Homo sapiens: one gene and its partners. The protein of the gene in region 2 purifies or fractionates together with the protein of the main gene of each other region. This does not show direct contact. Each region holds a gene or a part of one and is shown on either strand. Other genes may lie near its edges.

Region 1 (3,648 bases), on a different chromosome or scaffold from region 2:
CTCGTTCCCTGGGCTTCCAAGCCATCTTGCTCTCCTGTCCTCTTCCTCCCCAGCTCCTCACACACCACATGCTCCCCAGGAGGCCCCGTCCCGGGGCTGTGGCGCCAGTGACAGGCTCTGCCTCCAGGGCAAGACCCAGAGGTGCAACTGCCTCCCGGGCCTTTCCTTGTTCACCCCTCGCATAAGTTCAGCAAGTCCACGGCCAGCTTCCTGCCTATGCACCCAGTCCTCCTGTGCCCAGTGGGTGCCCCACTGTCCCCCCAGTTACCAAAACCTGCATCCCATCACCCTCATCACCCACTCCTCCCATGCCACTGGTCAAGCCAGAGGATTCGACCACGGCCATTTTGGGACCTTGTGACCTCTTCTCCATCTCCAGGCCACACCCTCCACCGCCTTCCTCATTGTGGCCACCTCCAGCCACATCAAACTTGCCTTGCGCTCCACACCTTTGCACCTGCCTGGGAAGCTCTCCCTGAACTTCTCAAGGGCCTTCGCCCTGTCCTCACACCCTCGGCAGAGCTGACACTCACCTTTCCAGCAGTCCCCTGAGGAACCCGCTGTGGGCAAGCACACCCATCGGCTTCATCCTCTGCTTGTCTGCCTGGGAACCCTTGGGGGCAGGGTGCTGCCTGAGGCATGTGTCAGTGCACTTTGTGCACAGGGGCCCTCGGTTCCACTCATTAAATGCCTGGGTGACAACATGAGGCTGGGCCAGGGTGAGTATGACTTAAACGGGGACATGCGAGCCAGCACTGTGACAGGTGCTCCAAGACCTGTGAAAGCATGGCCTGTGGCTGTGTAGCGACAGCCCTGGCTTCCACCGCGAAGAAAACACCTCCACGCGTCACTTATTCATGATCCCTGTCGGCACCTTCAACAGGGACTCAAGGCCACCCAGACTCCTCTGAGCTCTCCGTCTCTTAGGCTCCTATTACCTGGAGGCCTGGACAGGAAGGGTGCCTCCCCCACCAGCCTGTCAGGTGCTCACCACAGAGTGGGACCCCGCCAGCAGTGCTGTGCCTGTCTGCCCCTGAGCCTCGCCCCTGCCTCTCCTGAAGAGATGCTGACATTTCAGCTGGGCCAAGGCATGGCACTGGAGAAGGGAGGCAGCTAATGAAACCATCCAAAGAGCCCCGAGCGCGCAGAGTGAGAAGGACCCTTGGAGGCCTTCGCCCTGTCCTCACACCCTCGGCAGAGCTGATGCTCACCTTTCCAGCAGGCCGCTGAGGAACCTGCACGGGCAGGGCTGAGCGCAGACCCACACTGTTGCTGGGACCCTTGTGTTCACAGACACACGCTGAAGGTCATAACCGTTCTGCATCACCGAGTCATGTGGAGGGTCCCCACTGAGTCTCCCCTTTGTGACTGTCGGGTTGCCCATCCTCTCCTCCATACTGTAAGCTCTATGGGGGCAGGAACCAGGCCCATCTGGTTCCTGATGAACCCGGCTCCCAGCACTGGGTGGCCATGGTGGATGCTGGTAAACATCTATATTTAGAGTGAATGAAAACTTTTTTTTTGAGACAAAGTGTGTCGCCCAGGCTGGAATTCAGTGGCACAATCTCAGCTCACTGCAACCTGTGGCTCCCTGGTTAATGCGATTCTCGTGCCTCATCCCAACAGACATGCGGTACCACGCCCGGCTAATTTTTGTATTTTTAATAGAGATGGGGTTTCGCCATGTTTGCCAGGCTGGTCTGGAACTCCTGGCCTCAAGTGATCCACCCGCCTCGGCCTCCCAAACTGCTGGGATTACAGGCATGAACCACTGCACCCGGTGGAAAACATTTTTGATGGGGAGAAGAGGAACAAAGACATAGCTGGTGCCACTGCACATCAGAGTTGACCTGCACCAGGACTGAATCCCCCTCATTTTACAAACGCCACAGCTGAGGCCCAGTGAGTGGTGACAGAATGGCTTCTGGCTGCCTGTAAGCCCCTCACAAGCTGCAGCTGTCCTCCCCTCTCGCCCCTAGGAAATGCTTATGTATGTACCATCCAACTCTCCTGGCCTACAGGAGGAACTTGTTTTCAGTGGTCAGGTAACGTGCCCAGGACTACACTGCTGTGCTGACAGGATCAGAATTCCAATCTTGGGTTTCCCCGAGTTTCCTGCCACCTGGCCCATGGGGATCAGGGCTGGAGGGAGAACGAGGATGGCTGAGGTTTAGGTGGCTTAAGGACCAGGAGACACGGGGAGGTGGTGACTTCCTGTTTCCCAACTGGGCAGACCACTGGTGGTGGCGGGCACAGCTGGAAGGAAACCAGGCTCGCCGAGCCACCGAAGCCCCAGCTTTCTCAACCAGGAAGCAAAGAACCTCCCCCACCTCACGCCGGGAGCCCTTTCTCTGAGAGGAGCTGGTTCCGAGCCGCTCTTCCAGGGAAATGGCCCGGCGGCGACAGAGCGGGAGGGAGGGGCCGCAGGCGCTGCGAGGACGCACAGCTTCCCAATGCGTGCCCCCGGCGGTTGGGAAGCCGCGCCGCGCAGACCAATCCGGCCCGAGGCGGAGGCCGGTTGGCTCCGGAACGCCTGGCCCGCGGGGCGGGCGGGGCAGCTGGGGAGGGAGGGAGAGGCGAGAGGCAGCTGGGGACAGGGCGGGGCGGCGGGGGCGGGGCGCCTGCCCGGAGGCCAAGCCCTCTCGGCCCCACCCCGCAGCAGCCCTGCCAGGGGCGCCGCCCCAGCCCCCCCCACGGCCGAACCCCGTGCCGGTTGGGGACCCTCCACGTGACTCGGTGATGCAGAACGGTTATGACCTTCAGCGTGTGTCTGTGAACGCAAGGGTCCCAGCAACAGTGCGGGTTTGCGCTCGGCCCTGCCCGTGGGTGCAGGGACGTGTGGGTGTGTGGGCATGTGTGGGTGTGTTGGGGAGGGTGCCCAGCGACATGTGACAAAGACGCCCGTCTCCGGGAGATGGTGAAGGGGCCCGCGAGCAGGCGCTTTGTCTGGCTGTCTGCAGAGTGAGGTTCGCGCCGCGGCGGCGGGCGCCCGTGCGGTGCAGGATGCCGGGGCGCCAGGATGGCCGGGGGCGCGCGCGCCTGTGCCAGGGTGAGTGCGCTGCGGCAGCGCCGGGGGACAGCGCGGAGGGCCCGCGCCGGCCCGGGCCTCGGGCGTGACTGGGCGCCACCCGTGGGCGCTGCAGCGGCCGCGTGTCCCCGTGACCTCAGGAGCCGGCCCGGGCCCGGGTGGATCCCCGCGCGCCCCTCCCCGTCCGCCCTCCACGTGCGTGTCCGCGGCGCGCGCGCCCGCCGGCGCGCACCCGCTCGCCTGTCGCCGCCGCCACCGCTAACCGCGCCGGGAAAAGGTGCCGGGAACCGAGCGAGCCGGGGCCGCGGGCCCGAGCGCCATGGGCCCGAGGGTGGGCGGCGGGCGGCCGGTCATCCCCGGGCCTCGTCCCCGCGGGAGAGCGGCCAGGAGTCGGCGGGGGCCGGCCGGGCTCGCAGGGAGGCCGGCCCGCGCCCCCTGAGCGACGGACACCAGGTGAGGGGGCCGCCGGGCGCAGCGCGGGGGCCGGCCAGGGAGGGGCCACGGACTCCACGGGAGGTTCGGGGGGCGCCTTCTCTGGCGGGGGAGGGTATGGCGGGGAGTGGGGAGGCGGCTGGCGATTCCTGGGGACGCCTGGGAAAGGAAGTTCCGGGACCCTCCCT
Region 2 (4,133 bases):
TCTATTCTTATATAGCATATGCTAATTTATTTATTTATTTTTTGAGATTGAGTTCTGCTGTGTCACCCAGGTTGGAGTGCAGTGGCATGGTCATGGTCCACTAAAGCCTTGACCCCTGGGGCTCAGCAGTTATGCCAACTAAGCCTCCCAAATAGCTGAGACTAGAGGTATGCGCCACCACACCTAGCTATTTTTTTTATTTTTAGTAAGGACAAGGTCTCATTATGTTGGCCAGGCTGGTCTCAAATTCCTGAGCTCAGTTGATCCTCCCACCTCAGCCTCCCAAAGTGCTGGGATTACAGGTGTAAGCCACTGCACCCTGCCTATTCTTATAATCATATATTTATATTTCAAATGGATTTTAACTGGTTATTTAATAGTTTAATTAGATAAAGTAATTCATGGCTGGGTGTGGTGGCTCACGCCTGTAATCCCAGCACTTTGGCAGGCTGAGGCAGGTGGATTACCTGAGGTCGGAAGTTCGAGACCAGCCCAACCAACGTGGAGAAACCCCATCTCTATTAAAAATGCAAAATTAGCAGGACATGGTGATACACACCTGTAATCCCAGCTAGTCAGGAGGCTGAGGCAGGAGAATTACTTGAGCCAGGGAAGCAGAGGTTGTGGTGAGCTAAGATTGTGCCACTGCACTCCAGCCTGAGAGAACAAGACTCCGTCTCAAAAAAAGAAAAAAAGAAAACTTTTTTACACATGGGTATCTCACCATGTTGCCCAGGCTGGAGTGCAGTAGCTATTCATAGGCACAGTCATAGCACACTGCAGCCTAGAATTTCTGACCTCAAGCAATCATCCTGCCTCAGCCTCCTAAGTAGCTAGGACTACAGGTGCATACCACCATAACCAGCTTTAATTAAATGTTTTTTATTTGGTTATTTTTTTTAAGTTTTCTGTATTCACACAAGGGGTTGCCCAAATATAATTTTGCTTTGACTATTGAGATCTAGTGAAAGTGGGGTATATGAATTCTAATTGCAAATATCCAGGCTCAGAGGCCCAGCAGGACTTTCTAACACAATCTTTTAGCGGAAGTTAGAAATGGTATATAGCAGGAGAGTCAGATTTGAGAAGCATATGTAGATTCGAAGCTGGGGGAATATGGCAGGTAGTTTGTACAACATCTAATTCAGAACATTAAAATTAAGATTTTAGTCAAACTGTGTTTAAGTTAGTTCTTATTTTCCTGTAGATGCATCTCACAGCATCAGTACAATACCAAAAAAGCACACAAGAATAAGAATATGTGGAATTTCTATACCTATTGACAAAGCACATAATTTAACCATAAACACAAAGCCATAGGTCAACAAAGAAATGAAGATTCCAGTTCTGAAGGTGAGTTTTCTGAAGCCAAAGTGGATACATGCAAAATTAATATAGTTTTACTGTATATCAGTTGTCACCAATCAGAAATGGAAAACAGATCCTATTTATAATTGCAAACAAAACTGTAAAATAGACTTTTTAAAGTCTGGGAATAGACTTCTAAAATAAGCTATAACACTTAAAAAGGAGAGATATACTATGTTCCTAGATAGGACAATTGAAAATTCTGGAGATGACAGTTTTTCAAAAATCTATTGAGGCCAGGTGCAGTGGCCCATGCCTGTAGTTCCAGTACTTTGGGAGGCCTAGGTGGGTGGATCACCTGAGGTTGGGAGTTTGAGACCAGCCTGACCAACATGGAGAAACCCCGTCTCTACTAAAAATACAAAATTAGCCAGGCGTGGTGGTGCATGCCTGTAATCCCAGCTACTCGGGAGGCTGAGGCGTGAGAATCGCTTGAACCCGGTAGGCAGATGTTGCAGTGAGCCGAGATCGCACCATTGCACTCCAGCCTAGGCAACAAGAGCGAAACTCCATCTCAAAAATAGAAAAAACATTTATCGAAATCCCAACAAGTTGACAAATATATCCACATAAAAATATAAAACTTCTGTATTCTGTGAAAGCTACTATAAATAAAGTTTAGAGAAAGTTATTTGCCACCTATGTCATGATTGAAATAGTTAATTGATCCTGTGAATCAGTTAGCAAAACATAACTCAATGGAAAGATAGGCAAATGATACAAATAAGAAATTCACAAAAGAAGAAATACTAAGTCTCTAGTGATGAGAGAAATGTAAATTAAAATGAAACATGTTTGTTCATCAAGTTGTCACAAGTTAGACAATCATATCCAATATTTTTAAAGGTTGTAAGACTATAAGGAAATAGCCACTGTCATATCATTTTTAAAGGAATATAAATTATAGGGCCTTTTGTTTCTTTGGGTTTTTTTTTTTTAGAGACAAGATCTCTCCGTGTTGTCTAGGCTGGACTCAAACTTCTGGACTCAAGCAATCCTCGCAACATCATTAATAGCTGAGAGTAGAGACTTGAGCCACCACACCTGACTATAGGGCCTTTTTGAAAGGAAAATTGACATCATCAAAATTTTAAATATATTCAGTCTATTTCTCAAAAACTCAAAGAATACTAATAAATGTGTACTCAGGTATATGTACAGAAATTGCTGTAACATTATAATTTTAAACAATTTAAAACAGACTGAGTTTCCAAAGTTAGGGTACAATGAAAGAAAAGGTGGCTTATTTATACTCTGGAATATTTTCCAAGAGTTGAAAAGGATGAGGATACACACACACACACACACACACACACACACACACACACACACACACAGTTTGGGTATCCCTAATCCAGAAATTCAAATGCTCCAAAGTCCAAAACTTTCTGACCCACCAACATGACTGATGCTCAAAGGAAATGGCCACTGGAAGATTTCAGATTTTCAGATTTGGAGTGCTCAACCAGTAAGTATATAATGCAAATAATCCAAAATACAAAAAAAAAAAAAAAGAAATCTGAAACACTTCTGATCCCAAGCATTTCAGAAAACGGATGTTCATTTGTGTGTGTGTGTGTGTGTAAGCAGGTGTTGCTAGAAATTCACTTATATACAAGAAAACTTTTTGTGTACATATTTGCATATATATGTACAAATGGGTAGAAACGATACATGATTAATCTTAATCGGGAAGGAAAAGAGATTTAGGGAAGGAAGCAGTAAGTGAGAACTTTTATTCTATTTACTCCTGCACGTTTAAATATTGTTTACAGTGAGTATATCAACATGTAAGTGTTAAAAGACAATAAGCTACTAGTGATTTTTAATATAAAATTAACTATAAAATATTTTAAATATTAGCAAATAATATAGCACACTCATGAACCTAATTCCCACATTTGATAGTTGTTACATTTTGCCATGTTTGTTTAAAGGTCTAAGTCATAAAATCTTATAAAGCTAAACCCCACCCTTCTCTTTCTCCTCTCTCTCCAGGATAATTACTGTTTTATAGTTTGTGGATATCATTCCCTTACTTGTGTTTATACTTTTACCAAGTGTGTATGTATTCAAAAAACAGTTGTTTTGTGATTTTAAAATGTAAATGAATGGCGTTATGCTCCATGTATTCTGCAACTTTTCATCATACATTAGGTTTTGGCGATTTAGCCATAATTTGGCATGAATTCAGGTCTTTTAAGTTTTATTCCATTGTAAGAATAAACAAGTTTGTTCATTCATGTCTCCATTGATGAGTGATAGTATTGTCTCCAGTTTTTTTATGTTGCAAACCAATTTGCAAAAAACTCTGGCACATAGATTTTTACACCCAAGAAAAAGTTTACCTGGACATACACCAAGGAGCAGAACTGTTGAGTCCTAGCGTATGTGCATATTCAGCTTTTCCAGAAATTTCTAAATTGCTCTTTAAAATAGTTGTACCAGTTTACATTCCAATCGACAGTGTGTGAAAGGTCCCATTTCCCCACATCCTCACTGTTATGTATGATTTTTCTCATTGTCAAACTAATGGATATAAAATGGTATATTGTTTTAATTTGCATTTCTTAATTACTGGGGAGGCAGATCATCTTGTCATATGTTTATTGGCCATTATGGTTTCCCATTATGAATGTGTGTCTCTATCTTTTGTCCTCTTTTCTCTGTTGGGTTGTCTGGCTTTTTCTAACCAATCCTTTATATATTCTGGATACTAGTCCTTTGTTAATTATCTTTTTCCAATATGTGGCTTGTCTTTTAGT
Region 3 (3,648 bases), on a different chromosome or scaffold from region 2:
GCCTGGACAGCACCTCTGCCTGTGGCCGTCCCTGCCAGCCTGTCCTCGGGCAGGGGCAAGCAGCCCTCACATATGATCCCCGGGCCCCTCCTGCAGCTGTGGGCTCCGGCCCATAGCCTGCCACCCTGCCTCTCAGCAGTACCAGCTGCCCAGGTGACTGAGCCGCCCTGCCGCTCAGGCCATGTGACCACAGGTCACGGCCTTCCCAGCAGGAAGCATGTGACGGAGACAGCCTATCAGAGCACTCCATCACCCCAGCTGGTGATTGGCTCATGAGGATCACATGACCCCCAAGCTGGCCAATCAGAATCTCCCCTGATTTGTGATTGATGAATTCTAGGAGAAAAAGTGTTTCTCTTTCCCTGGAATCAAGAATTAGAATCCTTGAGCTATAGTGGCTATCTTTCCTCTAATTCAGGGCAGCCAAACTGAGAATGAAACAAATCACACAGAGAAAAGGAGAATCAACGAGTGAAGGAGAGAGAAATAGAATCCTAACGATGTCATAATTGAAGCTCCTGGATTCAGCAGGGTGTGACCCAGTCCCTGCCTTTAGCCTTCCTTGTCTATTGAACGGGCCCCAAAATGTCCCCTTTTTGCCAAACGCTTTTTGAGCTGGGTTCTGTCCGTTGTGAGCAAGATTCCCTCCTAATACAATACACTGTTTGTCCTAATCCTGCCTCTGAAACCTTGAAGTGAGAGCTCCTCTCCCTCCAGAATCCTGAATTTGGGGAACAGATTCCTGGCCTCCAGGAGCGGTGGGCTGGGTCTAGGGAGGATGCTTGAGGGTGCGTCGGGGCGGGCAGGGCGCGGCCGGCTCCAGGTCCTCACCATCCCTTTGATGCCTTCAGGGAAGAGGAAGCGGTTGTACAGCGTGCTCACGGTGTCGTCCGGGAGCACCTCACACTCCTTCTGCAGCAGCAGGTCTCCGGTGTCCAGACCATCATCCGCCCAGAAGATGGAAAACCCCCCTTTCTTATCTCCGTGAATGAGGGTCCTAGGAAGCAGAAGAGTGAAACCTGGAGTCCACGATGAAGGGCCACGGAGGATGTCCTGGGTACAGGCCCGTGGACCTGCCACCCTCCAGGAGGCCCTCTCTTCCCAGGGGTAGGACTGACACCGGCTCCGGCGGGAAACGGAAGAAGGAAAACAGCATGTATTGATAACAACCATGGGCCAGGAATTGTGCTAAAAGCTCTATATGCCTTATGTAACTGAGTCCTCACAGCAGGGATAACAGGTATACTCGGTTTACAGATAGGGAAACTAAGGCCCAGAAAAGTGAAGCGACACCCACAAAGATCAGAGAGCCTGAATCTCAACAGACCAGTCCGACTACAAATCCACTCTCTTTTCTCAACTCAAATGTCTTCCCTCTTTGACCACCCATCTGCCTTGTCACCCCATTTGTTGTCTTGGGAATTCTGTCCCCTCAGAGTACCTTGTGGAGGCCATCCTTTGCTCCATCTTTATCTCTTTCTACGAAGTGTGCTGCCCAGAGCAGCGGCAGTGGAAGTTAGAGTAGGACCCCCAGCCCACCGCCTGGGGTGGCACCCTGGCCCCTGCGCCTCCTGGTGCCCTCTCTGTCCCTGCGCCTTCTGGTGCCCTCTCTGTCTCAGCTGGGGGATGGGAACACTGACAGTGCCAGCTTCTCCAATAACTGTGGGAATGCAGAGTGCTTAGCAACACCTGCTCCCAGTGCTCTAGAGCCTTCACTCATTGATAACGTTGCACAGCCTGTTCTGTGGCTGACATCTGGCAGCCACAGGACAGGCACCTGCACGATGCCCACTCTGCAGCCCTAGAAATGCTTTGGGCTAATGGAAAGTGACAAGTCAGGCTGATGGAGGGACATGTATGGGGATGGCCCCCTGTGTTTTTGCCCCATCTCACCAGTTGATGGCCGAGGCCCCTCGGTGCCTAGGGAGCAGTGACGGGTGATAGATGATGGAGCCATGCCGGGGGGCACTGATTATCTCCATGGGGATGAATTGGCTGCAGAAGGGCAGGACGTTGAGCTCGGCCCCCAAAGCCTGGTATTTTGCCACCACATCAGGCAAAGCCTGTCCTTTTGCACGCCACCGGGAGTACTTGAATACCGGCACTCCATCCTTCTCAGCTTCCAGACCTGTGGGACGGTGGATAAGAAACTGGCCCCTCTCCATAACCCACCCACACGCAGCCACCTCTGCCTTCCCAGCAGAGCAGCTCATAGGACTTCTCTCCATTCCTGCCCCCTCACCCACACCCCAGCCAGGCTCCACTGGGCAACACAGACGGATGCACCAGCCAAGCATGAGGCTCTGGGGACTGCCCTGCCTGCATCCTGACTTTTGCTGAACCCCAGGACCTCTGAGTGCCTCCCTCTTCCAGAACCCAGATGGCTGACCTCTGCCCTCATTCCTCTCCTGAGGCCTTGCCATCCCCGTCACTGAGTTACTGTCTTCCGGCCCCCTCTACTGCTCACTCTGTGATGGGGACTGCCCCCCTGCAGATGGCATTTCTGCTTTGTCAGCTGTTCCCTGATGGAGGAAGAAGGGGAAGAAGGGCAACAGGGCATCCCCACTCCTTTCTGTCCAGTGGGTTCCTGTCCTGTGAGCCTCCCCCAGCCCAGCTTCTTCATCCCAGTCACAGTCGTTCCTTCTCAGAGCAATGGCTAAATCAGTTTTTCCATCATCTGCAGAACTAGCCTCAATATGCACACATGCGTGCACACACACACACACACACACACACCCCAGAGGACCAGATACAGCCTGCAGGGCCCCTCCTCCTGCCCCGTCACCAGCACACCCTCCTCACAGGTCTGGATTACAGGCCCAAGCTCCCAAGTTTTTATAGTTAAAGCGTCCTCCTTTATCTTAGCCTTACAGTGGCAGCTGCTTCCTGCAGTCGCTGTCCCCAATAACTTTGGGCTCTCTGCCTTCCACTCTTCAATACCCAAGGAACACTTCTTTGTATTCAGTTCTCTGTTAGAGCCTCTGGTGTGATGTTTGGGCCCTGACTGGACTGGCTCTCCTCTCCGGTCTCCTCCTCTGTCACTCTGTCCTGGTGTCTGGTAGTTTTGAGAGAGGGTGGGATGTGATGTCAGCAGATTGGACTGCACTTGCAAAAGCTGTCCCACAGTGACCAATGAAATACTGCTTCAGGACATCTGAGATCAAGGCCAAGTAGGAGTCCCAGCCAGGCCTGGTCTGGGTCCAGGGTCAGCAGCTGGGGTCAGTGGTCACTTAGTGGCTGGGTGTAGGACCCAGGCTGTGGTGGGGTCAGGGTATGTCATGGGTCACTTGTGGTCAGGTCCAAGACTGAAGCCTGGCTGGCATTGGGTGTTGAGTGTTGGAGTTGATTCTAGGGCCAGGCTGCAGCTTCCCCACTGAGGGAGACTGGCTTTCCTTAACAAACTACACCTCTGTGCCTGGCCAGGCCTACAAGCCCCCTTTCCTAATCCTGGCCCTCTATCCTTAAGCCCTGCCCCACAGTCTGTCTCCATCAGGCCTGAGAAGGACCAGTCAGTGTTCCTAGAGGGTCTGTTCATCCAAGCTGAGGCCCCTGCATCCTGTCTGCTGAGGTTCCCAGCTCAAAGGCAGTGACCCAGACCCATGATTCTCAAAACGTGCTTTTCCTAGTACAAGAGATGCCAGTATCTCC

The links.
Region 1: the proteins of LYRM7 (region 2) and PC purify together in Homo sapiens (affinity purification with mass spectrometry; one large-scale study listed by BioGRID and IntAct). This does not show direct contact.
Region 3: the proteins of LYRM7 (region 2) and ALDH1L1 purify together in Homo sapiens (co-immunoprecipitation; one large-scale study listed by IntAct). This does not show direct contact.

Annotation. Positions count from the first base shown.
Region 1 is NC_000011.10:66,853,816-66,857,463, forward strand, and holds part of PC (pyruvate carboxylase, mitochondrial precursor), read right to left. Parts: exon of another isoform or gene 3,249-3,648; intron 2,473-3,248; exon of another isoform or gene 2,331-2,472; intron 2,143-2,330; exon of another isoform or gene 2,002-2,142; coding exon of another isoform or gene 1,999-2,001; intron 1,319-1,998; exon of another isoform or gene 1,281-1,318; coding exon of another isoform or gene 1,212-1,280; intron 1-1,211. UniProt on the Homo sapiens protein: Pyruvate carboxylase catalyzes a 2-step reaction, involving the ATP-dependent carboxylation of the covalently attached biotin in the first step and the transfer of the carboxyl group to pyruvate in the second.
Region 2 is NC_000005.10:131,201,810-131,205,942, forward strand, and holds the end of LYRM7 (complex III assembly factor LYRM7), read left to right. Parts: 3' UTR 1-3,619; downstream 3,620-4,133.
Region 3 is NC_000003.12:126,156,512-126,160,159, forward strand, and holds part of ALDH1L1 (cytosolic 10-formyltetrahydrofolate dehydrogenase), read right to left. Parts: exon of another isoform or gene 3,572-3,648; intron 2,129-3,571; coding exon 1,894-2,128; intron 998-1,893; coding exon 832-997; intron 1-831. UniProt on the Homo sapiens protein: Cytosolic 10-formyltetrahydrofolate dehydrogenase that catalyzes the NADP(+)-dependent conversion of 10-formyltetrahydrofolate to tetrahydrofolate and carbon dioxide.